3 linked regions of the Homo sapiens genome follow. The protein of the gene in region 3 interacts with the protein of the main gene of each other region in a biochemical or structural test. Each region holds a gene or a part of one and is shown on either strand. Other genes may lie near its edges.

Region 1 (6,348 bases), on a different chromosome or scaffold from region 3:
GTAAACAGATTTTGCGCAAAGGAGCAAGGAAGGGTTTCTTGCCTGGCAGTGGTTGACAGTTTTTCTTTTGCCTCATGTAGCTCTTGAAATTGGGGCTGACCTCCCATCTAATCATGTCATTGATCGCTGGCTTGGGGAGCCCATCAAAGCAGCCATTCTCCCCACTAGCATTTTCCTGACCAATAAGAAGGGATTTCCTGTTCTTTCTAAGATGCACCAGAGGCTCATCTTCCGGCTCCTCAAGGTGAGTGGTAGGAGGGTTCTAAAGGTAGTCCAGCTATACATCTTGCCTTATTTACCTGTGTATGATCGTTTTTTCCTGTGAGGCTGACTCTTTTTCTTTGGTTTCTGGGGAGCAATTTCAGTGAAGTTGGGAATCTTGAGAACAAAAAGGTAAATGCCAGTAGTAGCCCTAGAAACCTTTCAAAACAAACCAAACCTCATGAGAACTTTGCAGAAGGTTTCATTTAGGAAGTTACAGCAAGGATCCATGAGGCTGTTTGGGTGTTGATACTTTCATGGCATAAGAGGGCTTTTTCTTTTTTCTTTTTTTTTTTGAGACAGGGTCTCACTCTGTTACCCAGACTGGAGTGCAGCCATACCATCTCAGCTCACCAGAACCTCTGCCTCCCAGGCTTAAGCGATTCTTCTGCTTTAGCCTCCTGAGTAGCTGGGATTATAGGAATGCACCACTACTGCCCGGCTAATTTTTGTATTTTCAGTAGAGACAGGTTTTATCATGTTGGCCAGGCTGGTCTTGAACGCCTGACCTCAAATGATCCACCCGCCTCGGCCTTCCAAAGTATTGGGATTACAGGCGTGGGCCACCACGCCCGGCCAAGGGGGCTTTTTATAAGTTTACTGAAGCCTCATGCTGCCTTTGTTGGTATTGGGACAGACGCTAGAGAACTGTTGGTCTGGGCCAGGTGCAGTGGCTCGCGCCTGTAATCCCAGGACTTTGGGAGGCTGAGGCGGATGGATCATCTGAGGTCAGGAGTTTGAGACCAGCCTGTCCAACATGGTGAAACCCCGTCTCTACTAAAAATACAAAAATTAGCCAAGCATGGTGGCACGCACCTGTAGTCCCAGCTACTTGGGAGGCTGAGGCAGGAGAATTGCTTGAACCTGGGAGGTGGAGGTTGCAAGTGAGCCAAGATCACGCCATTGCACTCCAGCCTGGGCAATAGAGCGAGACTCCATCTTTTTTTTTAAAAAAAAAAAAAAAGAGAACTGTTGATCTGGGCCTTATTTTACACTAGGGCTCTTTGGCCATATACCATAATATTCCAGAATCTTGGTTTGAGGGCTGTGTCTGATGGTCTGACTTTTCTCACAGTTGGAGGTGCAGTTCATCATCACAGGCACCAACCACCACTCAGAGAAGGAGTTCTGCTCCTACCTCCAATACCTGGAATACTTAAGCCAGAACCGTCCTCCACCTAATGCCTATGAACTCTTTGCCAAGGGCTATGAAGACTATCTGCAGTCCCCGCTTCAGGTGGGTCTGGAGTGCACTTAGAGGAGGAAGGTGGGATGGAAAATGTTTCTTGAGAATATATGCCTCCAAATCTTACTAAAACTCAGAAAGCAGTGGAAAGTTTTTGATATTTTAGTGCATTGTCCTTTGCCAGAAACTGGCTAACTTTGTCCTTTTCCTCATTCATCAGCCACTGATGGACAATCTGGAATCTCAGACATATGAAGTGTTTGAAAAGGACCCCATCAAATACTCTCAGTACCAGCAGGTACTGTGTGGTGCCCAGGGTGAGGAAAGCACAGGGCCAGCATGACCTGGGGAGGATGGGATTACAACCATGGGATATTCTCTCCTCCCTCCAGGCCATCTATAAATGTCTGCTAGACCGAGTACCAGAAGAGGAGAAGGATACCAATGTCCAGTGAGTGCTTTCCCCTCAATCTCAGGGACTTGCATACCTATATCTGTATATGCCAAGTCTGCTTGACTCTTCCCTTTCTTTCTTAGGGTACTGATGGTGCTGGGAGCAGGACGGGGACCCCTGGTGAACGCTTCCCTGCGGGCAGCCAAGCAGGCCGACCGGCGGATAAAGCTGTATGCTGTGGAGAAAAACCCAAATGCCGTGGTGACGTGAGTAGCAACCTGCTTGCTGGGAAGTTAGTCCTCATTGCCAAATTTCCTTAACATCTCTCCTTACCTTATTGTCTCTGTTTCAGGCTAGAGAACTGGCAGTTTGAAGAATGGGGAAGCCAAGTGACCGTAGTCTCATCAGACATGAGGGAATGGGTGGCTCCAGAGAAAGCAGACATCATTGTCAGTGAGCTTCTGGGCTCATTTGCTGACAATGAATTGTCGCCTGAGTGCCTGGATGGAGCCCAGCACTTCCTAAAAGGTGCCCCCAGGTTGGGGTGTAGGTGGAGGGTGATGATGGGTGAGACAGCAACCTGGGAGGAGGGTACAGGGTTTAGGGGAAAGTGGGTTGGACCTGGGTCACATCATATGAGTTTGAGAGCCACTGCTTCACTGCCTCTGTGCCCCTAGCAAATGAAGTCATCTCTCCAAACCTTAGTGTTCATATTTGTAAAATGAAGGGAGTGGGCTGGGCGCGGTGGCTCATGCCTGTAATTGCAGCACTTTGGGAGGCCAAGGCGGGAGGTCAGGAGTTTGAGACCAGCCTGGGCAACATGGCGAAACCCCATCACTACTAAAAATACAAAAATTAGCCAGGCGTGGCGGTGCACGCCTGTAATCCCAGCTACTCGGGAGGCTGAGGCGCGAGAATCACTTGAACCTGGGAGGAGAAGGTTGCAGTGAGCTGAGATTGTGCCACTGCACTCCAGCCTGGGCAACAGAGCGAGACTCCATCTCAAATAAATAAATAAATAAATAAATAAATAAATAAATATGACATATGTACCCTGAGCTTAGCTTTCATCAGGAACTTTTGTGGGACTTTGTGACCCCACAAAAGTTAAGAACCACCAGATTAGACTATCTTGGGTTCTTTCAGTTTTAATCTGTGTGACTCTGTAAATTAACCTAGTAGTGGAATCCTCCATGACAGTAGTTGGAAGCAGGCTGGCTTAGTAATGTGACAACATGCATTTGTCTCTTTCTTCCATGCCCATGCCAACGTTGGTTGGTTTTGACATGGGAGGTTTGATCCTTCTGATCCTTCAGTTAGTACAGACATACCATTTCCCTCCCTCTGGAACTAATTTGACTCTCCTGCTGTGCAGATGATGGTGTGAGCATCCCCGGGGAGTACACTTCCTTTCTGGCTCCCATCTCTTCCTCCAAGCTGTACAATGAGGTCCGAGCCTGTAGGGAGAAGGACCGTGACCCTGAGGTAAAGAACCACTCTCTCTGGAAAGAAGTGGTACTCTTTAGTCCTCTTCTTTTTCTGTATTTGCATCAGCTATTTTCTTCTGCTGGGGATGAAGAGGTGAAGGAGAAGTTAGGGATTGGGGAAGCACTAAAGTAAAACTTTTTTTAATCCTTGGGGAAGTAGTTCTCTCTTGTGTGTCTTCCCCAACACTCTCTCTCTCTTTCTGTCTCTGACAGGCCCAGTTTGAGATGCCTTATGTGGTACGGCTGCACAACTTCCACCAGCTCTCTGCACCCCAGCCCTGTTTCACCTTCAGCCATCCCAACAGAGGTAGGTTCTTTTATGGCTGTCCTCTGACTAGAGGGGTACGGGCTTCTTCCTTCCTCCTGCTTTCTTCCCTTACTGTCCCTAGTCTGCCTTATCTACTCTTCCTTTCCTGGGTCTTGCTCATGCTTTATCAAGTTGTCTAGAGCTTCTGGCCCCTTGTCACCCACATAATTATTTCCTGACAGATCCTATGATTGACAACAACCGCTATTGCACCTTGGAATTTCCTGTGGAGGTGAACACAGTACTACATGGCTTTGCCGGCTACTTTGAGACTGTGCTTTATCAGGACATCACTCTGAGTGAGTGTCTATGGCAGTAGATGGCAGAGTATGAGGGTGTGCTTCCTGGGCAGCTTATATGTACATGTGTCATTTAGATTTATGGGGGGCCCAGTGCTCAATGAATGGAGATCTTTGTGTGATTAGAGAAGAGACCCTCTTCAGCATAGGCAAAAGTCACAGCCATGGAGACCTCTGTTTTTTCATTATTTTGTCCACACAGGTATCCGTCCAGAGACTCACTCTCCTGGGATGTTCTCATGGTTTCCCATCCTCTTCCCTATTAAGGTAGGAACTGCTTTTAAGACTCTCTAGTTAAGCAGTAACCTTTGCCTTTGGTGTTGTGCTTCTTTCCTTCTCCCAGGAAGATAGTTGACTATGACTCATGTTCTCCTGATTTCATATGCTCTTGGATCCCAGTGGTAGGTGTTGGGAGTATTTGGAGTGGCCTTCTGCCTGGCTTTCCCGCATCTACTCTGGCTACTCTTCTGTCTGTTCTCTACTTTGAGCAAGAGTCATCTTTTAAAAACTCAAATTTGATCTTATCTCTCTTGCTGTCTTTTTTTTTTTTTTTTTTTTAAAGAGACGGAGTCTCACTCTGTCGCCCAGGCTGGAGTGCAGTGGCACAATTTCGGCTCACTGCAAGCTCCGCCTCCCGGGTTCATGCCATTCTCCTGCCTCAGCCTCCCTGAGGCTGAGATTACAGGTGCCAGCCACCACACCCGGCTAATTCTTGTATTTTTAGTAGAGACGGGGTTTTACCGTGTTAGCCAGGATGGTCTCGATCTCCTGACCTCATGATCCGCCCACCTCAGCCTCCCAAAGTGCTGGGATTACAGGCGTGAGCCACCGCGCCTGGCCTGATCTTATCTCTCTTTTTTGCTTAAAACTCTTCAATGCCTTCCCATTGTCTTTAGGATAAAAGTCAAAATCTGGGACATTGCTTGTAAGACTTGATGTGATCGAGTGTTTGCTTGCCTTTGCAGCTACTGTCCCCTTGCTTACACTGCTTCAGCCTTATGGACCTTCTTTTTGTTCTAATTGTCTATCTTCTTTCCTACCTCAGGCTTTCATGCCTTTCTCTTGCCTGTAGAGTTCTTTGCTTGTCTCTTCACACAGTTAACCTATCTTCTAGGTCTTCTTTAAACATTTTTATTGTGAGATAAACTTTCTCTGATCTCCTAGACTAGGTTAGTGTTCCCTTTCATAGGTGTTTTTCTGACTCTGTACATGTTCACAGCTCTCACCACACCTTTGATTATTTGTGTTCTGATAGGCTTCAAATAACTTTCATGAGGGTTGGGACAGTCTTGTCATGTTTATCATTTTATCTCCACACCTACCTTAATACATTGCCATGTATAATTCATAGCTTCACCCTGAACCTTCCTGTCTTTCTTCTTACAGCAGCCCATAACGGTACGTGAAGGCCAAACCATCTGTGTGCGTTTCTGGCGATGCAGCAATTCCAAGAAGGTGTGGTATGAGTGGGCTGTGACAGCACCAGTCTGTTCTGCTATTCATAACCCCACAGGCCGCTCATATACCATTGGCCTCTAGCCCTGCGTGCCAAGTGTCCAGAGCCTTGGAAGCAGCTTCAGGTTCTGCTCCTGTAGTACAGAAGGTGCAGTACATCTATGGGCTGTGATTCCCCTTGCCCATCAGAGAGGAGCATTTCAATCTGCTTTCCTGCCTTACATCAAGGTGGGCAAGGGATTATAATTAATTGCAGGGCTCAAGCCACCAATCTATGAAGACCTCAGGCCAGGGGGTGAGGAATTAGTGCTGGATTTGAAGCTACGCACTCAGCCTCAAGAACTCCCTGGAATATCCCTGAGAACATGGGGTTTGAACGGATTTTCAGCCTTTTTCTGTTCTTGTTTTGATGGTTTTGTGTAAGAGGAAATACAAATAAAGTTATAGCCCTTTACTGCACGACCATGCTGCCCCCTGCCACTATTTTCCCACACCTCACTTAGACCCAGGCATGTTCAGATCTGTCCTCTTAGCCTATCCAAGACCCAAAGGGGCCTAGTTGTATTCCCTACTTAGGAAGCTGAGCAATGACTATTGTAGTCCTGGATATAGGCCTTTCTGACCAGCTACAGTGAGCTCTTGTCCATTAGAACCTACAGTTAGGCTTTTCTCTGGGGAGGAGGCATAGAGTTTGCCACCTTGGAAAAAGATGGAATAGTGAGTGAAGCCAGTTTCTCTTCTGTATTCTTGAGCTACTGCACGGGCAACTGGTTACCTCTCCTTTGTTACCTCTTGGGAAGACTGGAATCCATCCAGGAATCTCCAGCAAGAAGCTACCTGTTTTTTTTGAATAAAACCACAGGGTTACAGTTTGAAGTCCTAAGAGATCATCTAGTCCAATTTTCCATTTTACAGAGGGGGAGTTTGAAATGGGTACAATGATGTGATATTAGTATCCA
Region 2 (6,867 bases), on a different chromosome or scaffold from region 3:
CAAGGTTTAGATGCTGGGGGATCACTGTGGTTCTCTCAATGGCTAAGTGCCTTTCCCTGCCATTTCTAACTTCAAAGTACATGACTAAGTTATAGGCCAGAGAAATCACTGACTCATATCCAAGGTCCAGTATCCTGGACCCTCAGGGTCACTTGGAAATAGTTTTACAATAATGTTGAATGCCCAGCTGTGCGCAGTGGCTTAACGCCTGTAATCCCAGCACTTTGGGAGGCTGAGGCGGGTGGATCATATGAAGTCTAGGAGTCAGAGACTAGTCTGGCCAACATGCCGAAACCTTGACTCTACCAAAAAGTACAAAAATTAGCCAGGCGTAGTGGTGCACATCTGTAATCCCAGCTACTTGGGAGGCTGAGGCCCGAGAAGTGCTTGAACCCTGGAGGCGGAGGTTGCAGTGAGTCGAGATCACGCCACTGCACTCCAGCCTGGGCAACAGAGTGAAACTGTCTCAGGGAAAAAAAAAAAGTCAATGTTCTATGTCTATTATATTTGCTTTTTATTTCTTAGACATATGATGTGCTTTCCTGGTTAATGCTAACTCTTTTTCAGCATTTCTGCCATGCAGCCTTTTTGTTAGTTCTTTGTGTTTGTGTCTTATTCCCCCTGCTGAATTCCAAATCCTTTATTATTTTTCTATTTTTTGTAGAGACAGAGTCTTGCTATGTTGCCCAGGCTGGTCTCAAATTCCTGGGCTCAAGTGGTCTCCTGCCTTGGCCTCCCAAAGTGCTGAGAGATACAGGCATGAGCCACTGCACCCTGCCCCAAAACCTTTGAGGGTAGAGGAACCATGTATTCATCTTTTGTACACCACCATGGTGCTTGTCCCAGAGCTTTGCTTTTTTCAAGTGAGCAATAAATTCCTTTTCTTACTTCTTATCCTGTTGGCTTTCTATGAATTCTAGGGCTAGGAAAGAACTATGGAAACTGGTTTAATTCCATCCTTCTGCCTCAGGGAAGGGCCACATTCAGACTACCTGGGAAAGTCTGGTAAAATGACTGTAGAAAAGGTTTCCACAGCTTCTAATTAACATGTAGCAGTGACTTTAAAGTTTTTTACATGTAGACCTCCTAAAACAGTTTTGAAAATCTGTGCCCCCTCATACATTTTTAAACTGATACCTAAAAATGCTTATTTAAGTAGTTGCAGAGAAGGTAATTTCTGGCATATAATTTATTGTGTGCTTATTTCAAGCATATATTTGTCAAAATTTTAGATTCGCAGGTTAACGCTACTTAGTTTGCATGAATGTCTACCAAACAGCCTAACTGGCAAAAGCCAGTCTGCATTGTAAAGCCAGTGGACCAAGATAGACTAAATTTTCTGTCAGAAAAAGTCTGACTTTGTTTTTAAATTCAGATAAAGTTGTTGAATATGTCCTTATCACAATGATCTATCATATTTTTTAGTTCTCATTATTAGACAGAAACAGAGTTAAGTCACAGAGCCATACTTGTGTTTGTGGTGTGACTGAAACAAGATCAGCCCCCTTCATTGAATTTTACCTAGATGCTCTTTCTTTTTGCTCTTTGGTTCTTATGGAAAAGCCCCTTTTGTCCCTTAGTTTAGAACCCTTATATTTTTATACCCCTGAGCATTGTAGCGTGGAAAGATCTGGGATGAATGACAGGTATGTGTTCTTTCTATGAAGTGGGAGAAGAGTGATTGAAAACAGAGGCAGTTCAATTTTAAGAAAGAGAACATTAGAGAAATTGGCTCTCTTAATACTATTAGCGCCCAGAACTCCCTCAAAAGTTTTTGTATACTACTTGGAGGTGTGTGTACTCCAGTATGAAGACTGCTATTCTAGAATTATTTAGCCCTCACGTCTAGGATGCCTAAACTGGAAATTCCTTTGTTATTCTTACTAAGCCCCTAATTTCTCATTCATTATCTTCACTAATACGTTTTTTTTTTACAAGGCTTTTTAGGTTTTATAAGTCTATAAACTTCTCCTCTTAGCTTTTGTCTAATCCATAATCTCCCACAAAATTTGTTAAATTGCATCATGAGACCAGCCCTCCCTCCCTCCTGCCCCTTGATTATTCCTGGGCTGGCCCTCTAGTAATGCTTCAGCTTGTTTTCTATCATATTTCTCTTTCTCTCTCCTTTATAGCTCATGCTGCTCAGGTCACTTGTGTTGCTGCCTCTCCTCACAAGGACTCTGTGTTTCTTTCATGCAGCGAGGTAAGAGATAGCTCCTTCTTCCCTAAACACACTCCAGCCATCCATAGGCCAAAGTCTCTAGTGGGGAGACTTTCTGGCCTGCAACTGCTCCTTTGGATTATGAAATCCTTTTTCTGTTCCACCTTCCTCTAGGACAATAGAATTTTACTCTGGGATACCCGCTGTCCCAAGCCAGCATCACAGATTGGTGAGTCTGAGATTCATTGGTGGGAGAATAGTACTTGGAACCCTGATAGAAGAGACTGTCTTTGGCCAGTGTCAAAGCATAGTTGCTAGATGCCCAGTGTAGTTACTGTGACATGAGTGACATAATCTCCTTCTTTTCCAGTGAGGCTCTGCTAACCCCATTCTGTGCAATGAATACCAAGAGGAAGGGCCAGTTCCTGGGTGGGTGATTTACTTTATTAGATGGTAGGACAAAGGGGCCAGAATTGTTATCGTCATGATTCGTGCCTGAAACTTGCCTGTGACTCGTGTCCAGAAAGGGCAGGAGGCTGCTGGGATAAATGGTTATGAGGCTCAAGGATGAGGACACTGCTGCCTTAGCAGGGTTTGGGAAATCAAATAAAGGTGCTCCCAGGATTTAGAGTGATATCATTTGAGAAACTGCTTCTTCTGTACTCTGAGTTTTGGTCCAGACCCTCGTCTCTCCTTTGCAGGCTGCAGTGCGCCTGGCTACCTTCCTACCTCGCTGGCTTGGCATCCTCAGCAAAGTGAAGTCTTTGTCTTTGGTAAGGCAGCGTGTCAGACTTCATATTGACTCTGGGAAAGGGGAGGAGGAAAAAGAAAGAGCTGACTCCACAACACACAAGGCCCTTGTTGCTCAGTCTTAGCCCTCATGGACACTAGATGAATTATGAATTGAGGGTGGGGAGGTGGGGTGATGCCAACGTAGTTTTAGTGTAGTTTTGGAGAACATGATTATTTTCCCAGTGGATTTGATTTTTGATTGATTGATCCAGCTTCTGTATTCTGGGCATGGCTATAAGTCAGTGATCCACAAAGCAAGTGGATTGCTATATAGCGAATTCTGTCCTACTGTGGGTAGGTGTAGCGCTATCGTGGTCATGAGGCTGTGTATATGGTGACATAGTTTGTGGTTAAAATAATAACTGCTTCGTTCATTAACTTAATTTTCACAATGATCCAGTGACTTATTATTCCTACTTTGCAAAAGAGAAAACTGATGCTCAGAATGGTTAACTTTTACAAGCTCGAGGAACTAGGATTCAAGTCTTTGGCACAAAAGTCCATGCTCTTAATCACTATGACATGTTCCTTCTCTTCTACAGGTGATGAGAATGGGACAGTCTCCCTTGTGGACACCAAGAGTACAAGCTGTGTCCTGAGCTCAGCTGTACACTCCCAGTGTGTCACTGGGCTGGTGTTCTCCCCACACAGGTACTGTTCTTTGTCATCAGGGGCCTGATGGGTATAAATGGGAACCGTGAGGGTGTGTGTGTATGTTTTCAAAGCATTAGCTGATGAAGTAGTTCCTTAAAGCAGACAGTGTTCTAGCTGAGGTTTCGGAACATCGAAGATCTCTTAAGTGTGAAGTAGAATCCTTTGGGAGTCAAAGGATTTTTCAGATTAGATGGTTTCTGTCTGAAATGGCTAAAATGTGATTTCATTCCTGCCCAACACCCAAAATGGTTAATGTTGTGGGCTTCTAGGACTGTGAGATTGGAAAAGCCTGTGTTTCTGGGTTATTGCTGAAGCTATAGAGAGGGACCAGATGGGGTGGTTAGTTGCCAGGATGGTTGTCAACCCTAACTTTGCTTCATTTCCCTCATCTTTACTTGAAACTTTTAGTGTGGACTTGTAGTAGCCAGATTAGCCAAAAGTGGGAATCAGGCTGCCTCTCCTGGGTCACTTTACAGTGGCGGCAGGGCCGGCCCAGTTAAGGTTTTGTCTTGGGATCCAGGCTGGACCTTTCACAACCCTCTCCTCCATCTGATAGTGTTCCCTTCCTGGCCTCTCTCAGTGAAGACTGCTCACTTGCTGTGCTGGACTCAAGCCTTTCTGAGTTGTAAGTGTGAAGTGGAATCCTTTGGGAATCAGGGAAGGGGAGCAGTGGGTGGGCGAGTCATTTTCCTCTTCAGAAAACTGTGTTGTGCTTTTGGAGAACAGATTCTCCATCTGTATCCGAAGGGACTTGGTAATGGAAGCAGGCTGGCTGTTGACCCTGTCCATTCCTGGGGCACATTCACAACCCCAAGGACAAGCCGTGTCCTTGGTAGAGGGGGGTGGTAGGTGAAATTTTTAAGTCTAGCCCTCCAGCGCTCTCCCACAAGGGGGCGGCAGTCTACCCTCTCACATAAAGAACTGCGTATGAAATGCAGCCTGCTACAGGGTAAAAGGCAGCACCTGGAAGACCTGAATTGTACTTCCCTCCTTGCCGTGATTTGCTGCCTGTTACTGCCCCTCATCACTGTCTTGTTCTATCCAGCATTTCTTCATCTATGAAAATAGAAGACTGGATTGGATGACTGATGACATCCACTGTGGATAGCTACACTGCTATCCTGGCGATGAGGCCATACAGTTGGTGAAATGTGTGTAACACACCCAAAAAATGTGCCCCAGATGTGTTGGGTTCTCTTTTTTTCTCCAGGTCTGCTTTTCTTGTCTCTACTCTGCCCCGACTTTTTTTCTTTCTTCTAGGTTTAGAAGCCAAGCCCACAGAGACTTTGTGAGAGATGCGACTTGGTCCCCGCTCAATCACTCCCTGCTTACCACAGTGGGCTGGGACCATCAGGTCGTCCACCACGTTGTGCCCACAGAACCTCTCCCAGCCCCTGGACCTGCAAGTGTTACTGAGTAGATTGGATTTAAGACAAAAAGCAAGTCCCCCATGAGTGTCCACTTCTTTGCCCTGCCCTCTCAGCTTGTGAGACAACACAGGAGCCTTCTATAGTATGTTGATATGCTAGATCTGTGCCGTTAATAGGCATCGTCTCTCAGCCTGAGGGAGGCTGGATTCTGGGTTCCTGTAGTCACAGGGAGGAAAAGCTTTCTTAAAAATGGACATGTATGTGCGTGTGAGTGTGTGTGTAGATTTATAGTTTTTGGTAGTGGCAGGAATAAAAAAAATCCATCCTACATCTTCCCTAAGCACTGCCTCTCTCTCACCCCCCAAAACAAGTTGACGAAAGGGTTTTATGTAGCTGTCTATGAGGAATTGGCCGTGTCTGGGTGGGTTATGGGATGTGGGCATCCCTGGGTTCTTGGAAGCAGCTCTTATGCTACTCATAGAGATGGGATTGACTTTATTTTTTTATAGTGCTTAATTCACCATTATGAGAAATGCTTCCAGTCACAAAAATGCAGCCCAGCTCACTCTGAGGAAGAAGCAGGACTTGGTACGGTTTTACACAACTCCTTACCATTAAACTGAATCAGAAATCCATTTTCTGGCTGAATAAAAAGTTTGGCTTGCCTGTGTAATGCCCACTCCCTTCCCCCTGGCTCCCTAGTGATGGGACATATATGAGAGAGAAGTGTTTTTCTATCATAGACACCATAGGGGAAAGTTTGGGGATGAAGGAGAGCTTAAAGGTGTTTCAATTAAGTTAGAAAACTGACACAGGCTGTTGAGAATTCTTTGCCACTTTTCCCACCCCAAAACAGCATGGGGCCTGACATCTTCTGCCCTGGTCCCCTTTCTCTTGATGTGGAAAGTCTGAATGCAGTATTTATAGACTTCTAAGGTTTTAAAATCCAGTATCAAGAAGAAAATCAGAAATACTGGTTGGTGAAATAAAGAGTTTAGGCATTGTTGGCCTGTCTTTTTTGAAGCATGTGTGTTATGTGTAGTTAGATATATTTCACTTATGTGAGTCATCATGGTGTTGGTCTTGTAGCCCATTATTTTTCCTGTGCTTCCCCAGCTTCCCAAAGTAGCTAGTTAGAACTTAAGGTAAATATTTATTCTTGGGTTGGTGGAGTGGATATTGCCAGTTAGGAGTCATGGATCAATTACTGATTATATTGAAAGTAAATATAATCAATTATGTACTTTTGAGCTTTGCAGGTTCAATTTAGGTAAAAATCACATTATGAAACTGGGAAAGTCTGAAGGAATATGGGCAAAATATTTCTCAGTAAAGCTTCCATGCTTCACCCTTGACATGATTACCCTTGAGTAAAACATGGGAATTTGTAGTTGTGTGATCCTCTGGCGTTGATGTGGAGTAGGAATAAAGTCTTGCATCATTTTTATAATGTGGGAGGAAATAGAATGGGTAGGTACAATCACTTAAGTTCTGCCTCTCGAAGATAAAACTTTAATTTTGTGGACACTTAGAGAAAGTAAGGGGTGGGGGAGCTTGAGGTGAGTAGGAATTTGCATAGCCCTTTTCTTCCTGGACTTAAGAATGATGGAGAAAAAACTCAGTGAAAGAGATAAGGAAGCAAATGTGTGGAAATGTGTGATAAGGAAGGAAATGTGTCAAGGTGGTTACAATATGGAAGGGAAGCATAGGTTTTTTTTTTCTTTTGTTGAGATGGAGTTTCACTCTTGCTGCCCAGGCTAGTGTGCAGTGGCATGATCTTGGCTCACTGCAACCTTCGCCTCCTGGGTTCAAGCAATTCTCCTGTCTCAGCCTCTTGAGTAGCTGGGATTACAGGCTAATTTTTGTGTGTTTAGTAGAGACAGGGTTTCA
Region 3 (7,760 bases):
AAAATATGTTCCAGCTCCTTCATAAAGGGATGGCAACAATTCTGTGAGGATCCCCATGAGAGACAATGCTTAGAATTCAGTTATTGGTCACAAAAGATGAGTCCCAGATATGGATTCATCCATTCTATACTTTTAAAACAGGATGTGCATGATAATCAGGTATGTAATAGTGAACCCATCTGAAATCCTGCAGATAAATTCTAAGTATCTATTATTTCTGAGCAGTAAGTAATCATACCTGCCTTCTTCTAAAAGTAAAGGACTATACAGATTGAATATCCCTTAAGCAAAATTATTGGGATCAAATGTATTTCAGATTTTGGAATGTTTTTAAAATTTTGGAATAATTCGCATTATACTGGTTAAGCATCCCTAATCCAAAAGTCTGAAATCCAAAATGCCCCAATGAGCAGTTCCTTTGAGCATCATGTTAGCACTCAAAAAAGTTTCAGATTTTGGGGAATTTCAGATTTCAGATTAGGAATACTCAACCTGTATATTATGATCATCTGCACATAATCTCTCACCTTTACCAATATTGAGGAAGCTCCTAACAGAACCTCAAAAATACATAACCACATAACCTTTTTTGATTTTTGAGATGGAGTTTTGCTCTTGTTGCCCAGGCTGGAATGCAACGGTGTGACCTCAGCTCACTGCAACATCTGCCTCCTAGGTTCAAGGGAGTCTCCTGCCTCAGCCTCCCAAGTAGCTGGGATTAGAGGTGCCCCACCACCACGCCCAGCTAATTTTTTGTATTTTTGTAGAGACAGGGTTTGACCATGTTGGCCAGGCTAGTCTGGAACTCCTGACCTCAGGTGATCGACCCACCTCAGCCTCCCAAAGTGCTGAGATTATAGGCATGAGCCACCGTGCCCAGCCCCTATAAAGATTTAAACAAGCTTATGGCCTCAGCTCACTGCAACCTCTGCCTCCTGGGTTCAAGTGATTCTTGTGCCTCAGCCTCCTGAGTAGCTGGGATTACAGGTGCCCACCACCATGGCTGGCTAATTTTTGTATTTTCAGTAGAGATGGGTTTTCACCGTATTGGCCAGGCTGGTCTCAAACTCCTGACCTCAAGTGATCTGCCCACCTGAGCCTCCCAAAGTGCTGGGATTACAGGTGTGAGCCACCACGTCCGGCTGGGACCATATCTTAATGAATACATTTTTTAAATGAAGAACCTAGAACAGAGAACCATTAACCCTAGCTTTTAGGAACATTTAGATGACTTACATTTTGGAGGGGAAATGTCTATGTACCTTTAAAGTGTCTCTACATCAGGAACACACAAAGAAAACAATTCCAGCAACCCTAAAATTAGGCTCAAATGAAATCAATAAATATTGTCTGGCTGATCATTATAAATTTTATCTTTTAAAAGCCTGACCTGCTCTTTTTTCTCAGCTTCTATTTTCTCAATGCTACGGTTCTAACTATCTAGTGAATGTTACAGCTCAATCTTTGAAAGTCACTTAGTCTAATGAGGAAATAAGCCCAGAGAGGTGCCCACATGCTTTGGTCTCCTGCCTTTTTGCATATTGCATTGACCACAGCAACACCAACAAGAAACCAAGTACACTCTGAATCTTCTCGACATTTTGCTATCAGAGCAATTTATGTTCATGGAAAGTCACAATTATAAATTTGTTCCTTTTAAAAGGAACTCAAATGGAATTTCTAATATTAGCCTGTGAGAATGTCCTGACTGATTACTGAAGAATGGACAAACTTCTAGGATAGAATTATGGGTGTTGCTCAGATGGGTAGCAGAGAAACTGGGGAAGCTCTTGTACTGGCCATTGAAATGTTAACACTGAAACCCTGCAGCAGTGGGGAGAGTGTGCATGCTTTCTGCTGCTGGTAGGTGGTAAGGCTGTATGATGTTTTAAAGCACAGGCTCAAAAATCACAATTCACTATCTACATGACCTTAAGCAAGTTATTTTACCTCTCTCTATAACTCAGTTTCCTCAACTATAAAGTGGGATAAAAGCGTATCTCATAAGATAATTAAGAATATTATAATACATAATAAAGAACTCAGGACAGTGGCTAGTACAGAGGTCTCAGTAAATTTTAGTTTCCATTTCAAGTGGCTGTTTTACTTGCCTATTGTTAACAGACTCAGAAATTCTGAGAGTCTGGTTAGAAAAAGGAAAATTCGTTTTTTTTCAGTCTACCTTGCAAGATAAGGGAAACCAAGTGACAGTGCTGAAATGAACACTGGGCTGAGTGGTACCAAACATCAGTTTAGTCACTAATTAGCCATGTGATCCTGTTAAGAAGGTTAGCTTGTATAACCTTATTTTTAAGGACACATAATGATTTCAAAAGTCCAAGTATAAATCAGTAATTACAAATCAGCCTTATAATACCCAGGTATCTATGAAAACTAAAAATTGAGAGTTGATAAATATAAGAAATTACTGCTGATCTAAAAGGAAGTGGCAGAAATCCCCTGAAATGTGTTAAATCTTTGCCTTACTAAATACTTGCCAGAAGCTATAACTATATTTTCTTATTAATTTCATGTTCATCTTCTCAACAAGTAAACAAAAATAAAGCCAACAAAATTCTCATATTTGCCAGCATTATTTTTTAAAAAACATTTCTCATTAATGGTTTTAGTCAAGAATGAGAGCAAAGTAATATAGAAAACCTAGGTTTATTTGTTAAGCTATTACAAAAACAAAACAATTACCATTTGAAGTACTTTGAGGACTTCATCCCAGACTCACTTGTTCTGTTACAGAAACTAACCTAAAAGGCTGGAAATTAAAGGATACAACCTAAGAGGTTATAACAGCAGACTGGTAAAACATGGCGAAAGGAGCTCTCTCTTTCCCCCGCAGTCTACCAAGCTCCTGTGCATTTTCACCACATAGATCTGCTAGCTTACAAATGATGCACACAGTCAAGGTAGGAATTATAGGCCTACTCAGAGGGTACCCAGACACAGAAAGTTTTAGGGTAAATAGTAAACTACAAATACCCTCTTGGTTAAGTTAATTCATCAAGTTAATAAAGGTCATATTATCTATCTTCTGCTGGTGACAACTTGTTGTCTCAGTATAGTCTGTCTCAAGAAAGAACTGGTTCAGGTTGGGTTTTGGAAAAGGAAAAAGACTTTCATTAACTTCACTCCAGAGTGGAAGAGGCACCAAGTTCTCTCCTACACTTAGGAGCAGAATCTGAAAAACAAAAGGTTTACAGTGTTTACAGTAGTGATAATAATAATAGCTACTACTTATTGAATGCCTAGTCACGAGTGCCAGAGGACTTAGGTACATTTTATCTTAGCCTCTGCAACAACCCTGCAAGGTAGGTATTATCCTCCCCATTTTACAGATGGGGGAAGTGAGGATTAAATAAGTTATATGCCTTGTCCAAAGGTGTACACAAGTATGTGGCAGAGTTGTGATTCCACGATTAACGTGCCGTCTCCACCCCACCTCATGCACTGAGAAGTCCTAGTTCCATTATCCTGAAATTATTAACAGTTGCATAAACTACTCTTAATTATTTATTCCTTATTCATTCTTTTAAAGCATGTACAATTTTAAATGATTAAAAATTTACACAGCCAGGTGTGGTGGCTCACACCTGTAATCCCAGCACTTTGGGAGGCCAAGGCAGGCGGATAACCTGAGGTCAGAAGTTCAAGACCAGCCTTACCAAACATGGAGAAACACTGTCTCTACTAAAATTACAAAATTAGCCAGGCGTGGTGGCACATGCCTGTAATCCCAGCTACTCGGGAGGATGAGGCAGGAGAATCACTTGAACCCGGGGGGGCGGAGGATTCGGTGAGCCGATTGCACCATTGCACTCCAGCCTGGGCAACAAGAGCGAAACTCCATCTCAAAAAAAAAAAAAAAAAAAAAAAAATTAGCCGGGTGTGGTGGTGGGCACCTGTAATCCCAGCTATTCAGGAGGCTGAGGCAGGAGAATTGCTTGAACCCGGGAGGCAGAGGTTGCAATGAACCAAGTTGCGCCACTGCACACCAGCCTAGGCAACAGAGCGAGACTCCCGTGTCAAAAAAAAAAAAATGTACAGACATTGTTCGGAATTCAGATCAATTATCCAGATGAAGAATATGTATAAACATTATACATAATGTTTATACATTATAAACAGGGTGCAGTGGCTCATGCCTGTAATCCCAGCACTTTGAGAGGCCGAGGCAGGCGGATCACGAGGTCAAAAGATCAAGACCATCCTGGCCAACATGGTGAAACCCTCTCTCTACTAAAAATACAAAAATTAGCCAGGCGTGGTGGCGCGCGTCTGTAGTTCCAGCTACTTGGGAGACTGAAGCAGGAGAATCGCTTGAACCCAGGAGACAGAGGTTGCAGTGAGCCAAGATCACACCACTGCACTCCAGCTTGGGCGACAGAGCGAGATTCCATCTCAAAAAGAAAAAAAAAAAAGAAAAGAAAAAAAACCGTTATGAATAAAATAATTCTCTGCCTCTGAGCTCTAGGATAAAATTAACAGAAAACAAAGCTCATTAAAAAGTTTGTGGCTATTTCACCATTAAAAAGAATCCTAAGAATTCTTGCCAAGGACTGCAGTAACATCCCATTTGTTTAACTGTTAGTGACATACCAAATGAGTTTCTCATGATTCTGATTAATAATAGAGTGGCTGATGTTCTCTGTATAGTCTATTCTTCAAAAGAAATATGTGAAAGCCCAAAGACCCAAAAATCTGTTTTCTAATTGCAATAAAACAGTTACTAAAACAAGTATCACTGAACTGAAAAAATTAATATGCTATAATGTGATGAGAAATAAGGAAAGAATACTGAAGTTGATATCAAAGGATTTCCCATGAAGTAGAACAGTGAAGTTACTGACAATTGGAACTGTGAGAGCTAAAAATCAAAGTTAACAGAGCTCCAGTGATGTGAACACATGATTTTAACAGAGAAGACATTGCTAATTTTAAACTGTATGGCTACCACTGACAAAAGTAAATGTGGAAATTAAAATTAAGTATTTAAGGGAAAATATAAATCATAGAACTCTAAGAGGTTATTTTCTGATAGTTCCACTGGCAGGATGTGAGAAGAAAGCACAGGTCCAGTATCACAATTCATGGTCAGTATAAGAAGCAATGTTATACAGTTTTCACAATAGCAGTAACTTGGAAGCTAACTGGAACTTTAAAAGGCTGGTTTCTGAAATGAAATAGAACAGGGGTAAAGGAATTAAAACTTGTAACTGGAGAAAAGCCAATGATTACAGAACTAGGTTCAGAACTAAAATCTGTATCAGAAGAAAAGAGAAGGAATTCTGAAATATTTATCATTGCAGGGAATAACAAAGGATCTTATAACTTAACTGGATGACTGACAGTGGTAGCAGAGTCAAGTCAAAACATATAAATCTTACCATGCTATTACTATATGCTTTAGTAAAATAAAAGGAGGCTAGCGAGAGCATCTCAAAGACTGGAGGATAGCCAGTATTCAAGAAAACAATGCTATAAGGTAGGAGGAAGTTGTAGTGGGGAGACAGGGACAACAATTTAACAACAGCTTATAAAGGACTACTACAATTACTGGTTCTAGCTCTGTATGATATGAACATGACCTTCAGTTATTATCTAACATATAGTTGAAATACTTAGGCTGGCAAAGGACAATATATTTCTCAGAATAATGGAGTAGCAAATAAATTGTCAGGAACAATCTGAGGTTTAAAAGAAGAAAAATTTTTTTAAAGAAGGAAAAAGAAATAGGCCAGATACAGTGGCTCACAGCTGTAATCCCAGTACTTTCGGATGCCGAGGAGGGAGAATCATTTGAGGCCAGGAGTTAGAGACCAGCCTGGGCAACATGTGAGACCTTGTCTCTACGTAAAATTTTAAAATAAGCTGGGTGTGGTAAGCATGTGCCTATAGTCCCAGCTATTTGGGAGGGTGAGGCAGGTGGATTGCTTGAGTTCAAGGCTGTAGTGAGCTAGGATCATGCCACTGCACTCTAGCCTGGGTGACAGAGTAAGACCCTGTCTCAAGAAAGAATTTTAAAAAGTAGAAAGTAATCATTTCATATGATTTTCATGATCAGCGACAAGGGAGAAAATGAACTACTCACCTTAAACTTGCATAAATCATTTTCAGTGATCAACATCTGCATCCTCAAACTGTCCAGCAACTGTTGGTGTGGTATCCACCTCCATCCCATCTAAACAAAAAAATTAATTACTGAGCAATCCCTATGAACACTTCAGACAGGTAGATTCAACTTATAACTTCTACCAGAAGGAAGCTAGTGCCCTCTGCTGGTAAGAATTGCTTTTTCCTCTTTTTGGAAAAGTCTGAAGGGACAAACTGAGAAAGAAAATGCTACCTGGGGATTTAGGCCACATCAAAATCAGTCTGCGACACTAACTGTGTAAATTCTCACCCTCAATACTAAAATAACTCTATGTAGGAACTTTCAAATGCAGTATCAATTGTTCACCCTTTACAGATCTAAGTATTTACTGTTAGGCTTTTTAAGGTATACAGCCCTATCCTCACAAAGTGAAAAGACAAAAATCAGTACAGCAAGCTTTTTGCTTATTTCCCTGTTTTTGTCATCTCATTAAATAAAAGGTGGGGAGGGAACAAGAGAAAAAAAACAAGAGCCCTGATATGGTTTGGCTGTGTCCCTACCCAAATTTCATCTTGAATTCCCACGTGTTGTGGGAGGGATCTGGTGGGAGGTAACTGAATTATGGGGGCAGGTCTTTCCCGTGCTGTTCTCATAATAATGAGTAAGTTTCACTAGATCTGATGGTTATATAAGGGGGAGTTTTCCTGCAAAAGCTCTTTTTGCTTGCTGCCTTCCATGTAAGATGTGATTTGCTCCTCGTCTTCCACCACGATTGTGAGGTTTCCCCAGCCATATGGAACTGTAAGTCCAATGAAACCTCTTTCTTTTGCTAATTGCCCAGTCTTGAGTATGTCTTTATCAGCAGTGTGAAAACAGACTAATACAAGCCCCACGGAAAGAGTTGTCTTGGCCAGGCACAGTGGCTCACGCCTGTAATCCCAGCACTTTGGGAGGCCAAGGTGGGTGGATCACCTGAGGTCAGGAGTTTGAGACCAGCCTGGCCAACATGGCAAAACCCCATGGCGAAATCTCTAACAAAAATACAAAAAAATTACCCGGGCATGGTGGCAGGCGCTTATAATCCCAGCTACTCGGGAGGCTGAGGCAGGAGAATGGCTTGAACCAGGAAGGTGGAGGCCAAGGCAGGCAGATCACCTGAGGTCAGGAGTTAGAGACCAGCCTGGCCAACATGGTGAAACCCCGCCTCTACTAAAAATACAAAAATTAGCCAGGCATGGTGGCACATGCCTGTAATCCCAACTACTCAGGAGGCTGAGGCAGAAGAATCTCTTAAACCCAGGAGGTGGAGGTTGAAGTAAGCCAAGATCATGCCACTGCACTCCAGCCTGGGCAACAGAGTGAGACTCCGTCTTAAATAAATAAATAAATAAATAAGACAGAATCATGGCCGGGTGCAGTGGCTCACGCCTGTAATCCCAATACTTTGGGAGGCTGAGGCGGGCGGATCACCTGAGGTCAGGAGTTCGAGACCAGCCTGGCCAACATGGTGAAACCCCGTCTCTACAAAAATACAAAAATTAGCTGGGCACGATAGTAGTGGGTAATCCCTGCTACTCAGGAGGCTGAGGTGGGAGAATCACTTGAACCTGGGAGGCAGAGGTTGCAGTAAGCCGAGGTCACGTTATTGTACTCC

The links.
Region 1: the proteins of CLNS1A (region 3) and PRMT5 form a complex in vitro, tested with the Homo sapiens proteins (5 studies listed by BioGRID and IntAct, with this or other methods).
Region 2: the proteins of CLNS1A (region 3) and WDR77 form a complex in vitro, tested with the Homo sapiens proteins (one study listed by BioGRID).

Annotation. Positions count from the first base shown.
Region 1 is NC_000014.9:22,920,029-22,926,376, reverse strand, and holds the end of PRMT5 (protein arginine N-methyltransferase 5), read left to right. Parts: intron 1-80; coding exon 81-244; intron 245-1,336; coding exon 1,337-1,498; intron 1,499-1,667; coding exon 1,668-1,745; intron 1,746-1,839; coding exon 1,840-1,898; intron 1,899-1,935; exon of another isoform or gene 1,936-1,984; coding exon 1,985-2,107; intron 2,108-2,193; coding exon 2,194-2,369; intron 2,370-2,969; exon of another isoform or gene 2,970-3,216; coding exon 3,217-3,326; exon of another isoform or gene 3,327-3,408; intron 3,409-3,541; coding exon 3,542-3,635; intron 3,636-3,817; coding exon 3,818-3,934; intron 3,935-4,136; coding exon 4,137-4,201; intron 4,202-5,256; exon of another isoform or gene 5,257-5,320; coding exon 5,321-5,473; 3' UTR 5,474-5,848; downstream 5,849-6,348. UniProt on the Homo sapiens protein: Arginine methyltransferase that can both catalyze the formation of omega-N monomethylarginine (MMA) and symmetrical dimethylarginine (sDMA), with a preference for the formation of MMA.
Region 2 is NC_000001.11:111,439,390-111,446,256, reverse strand, and holds the end of WDR77 (methylosome protein WDR77), read left to right. Parts: intron 1-2,132; coding exon 2,133-2,203; intron 2,204-2,335; coding exon 2,336-2,390; intron 2,391-2,862; coding exon 2,863-2,934; intron 2,935-3,495; coding exon 3,496-3,604; intron 3,605-4,127; coding exon of another isoform or gene 4,128-4,163; coding exon 4,164-4,232; intron 4,233-4,867; coding exon 4,868-5,027; 3' UTR 5,028-6,367; downstream 6,368-6,867. UniProt on the Homo sapiens protein: Non-catalytic component of the methylosome complex, composed of PRMT5, WDR77 and CLNS1A, which modifies specific arginines to dimethylarginines in several spliceosomal Sm proteins and histones.
Region 3 is NC_000011.10:77,613,503-77,621,262, forward strand, and holds the end of CLNS1A (methylosome subunit pICln), read right to left. Parts: intron 6,194-7,760; coding exon 6,126-6,193; 3' UTR 6,104-6,125; intron 5,186-6,103; exon of another isoform or gene 5,038-5,185; intron 3,194-5,037; 3' UTR 1,028-3,193; downstream 1-1,027. UniProt on the Homo sapiens protein: Involved in both the assembly of spliceosomal snRNPs and the methylation of Sm proteins.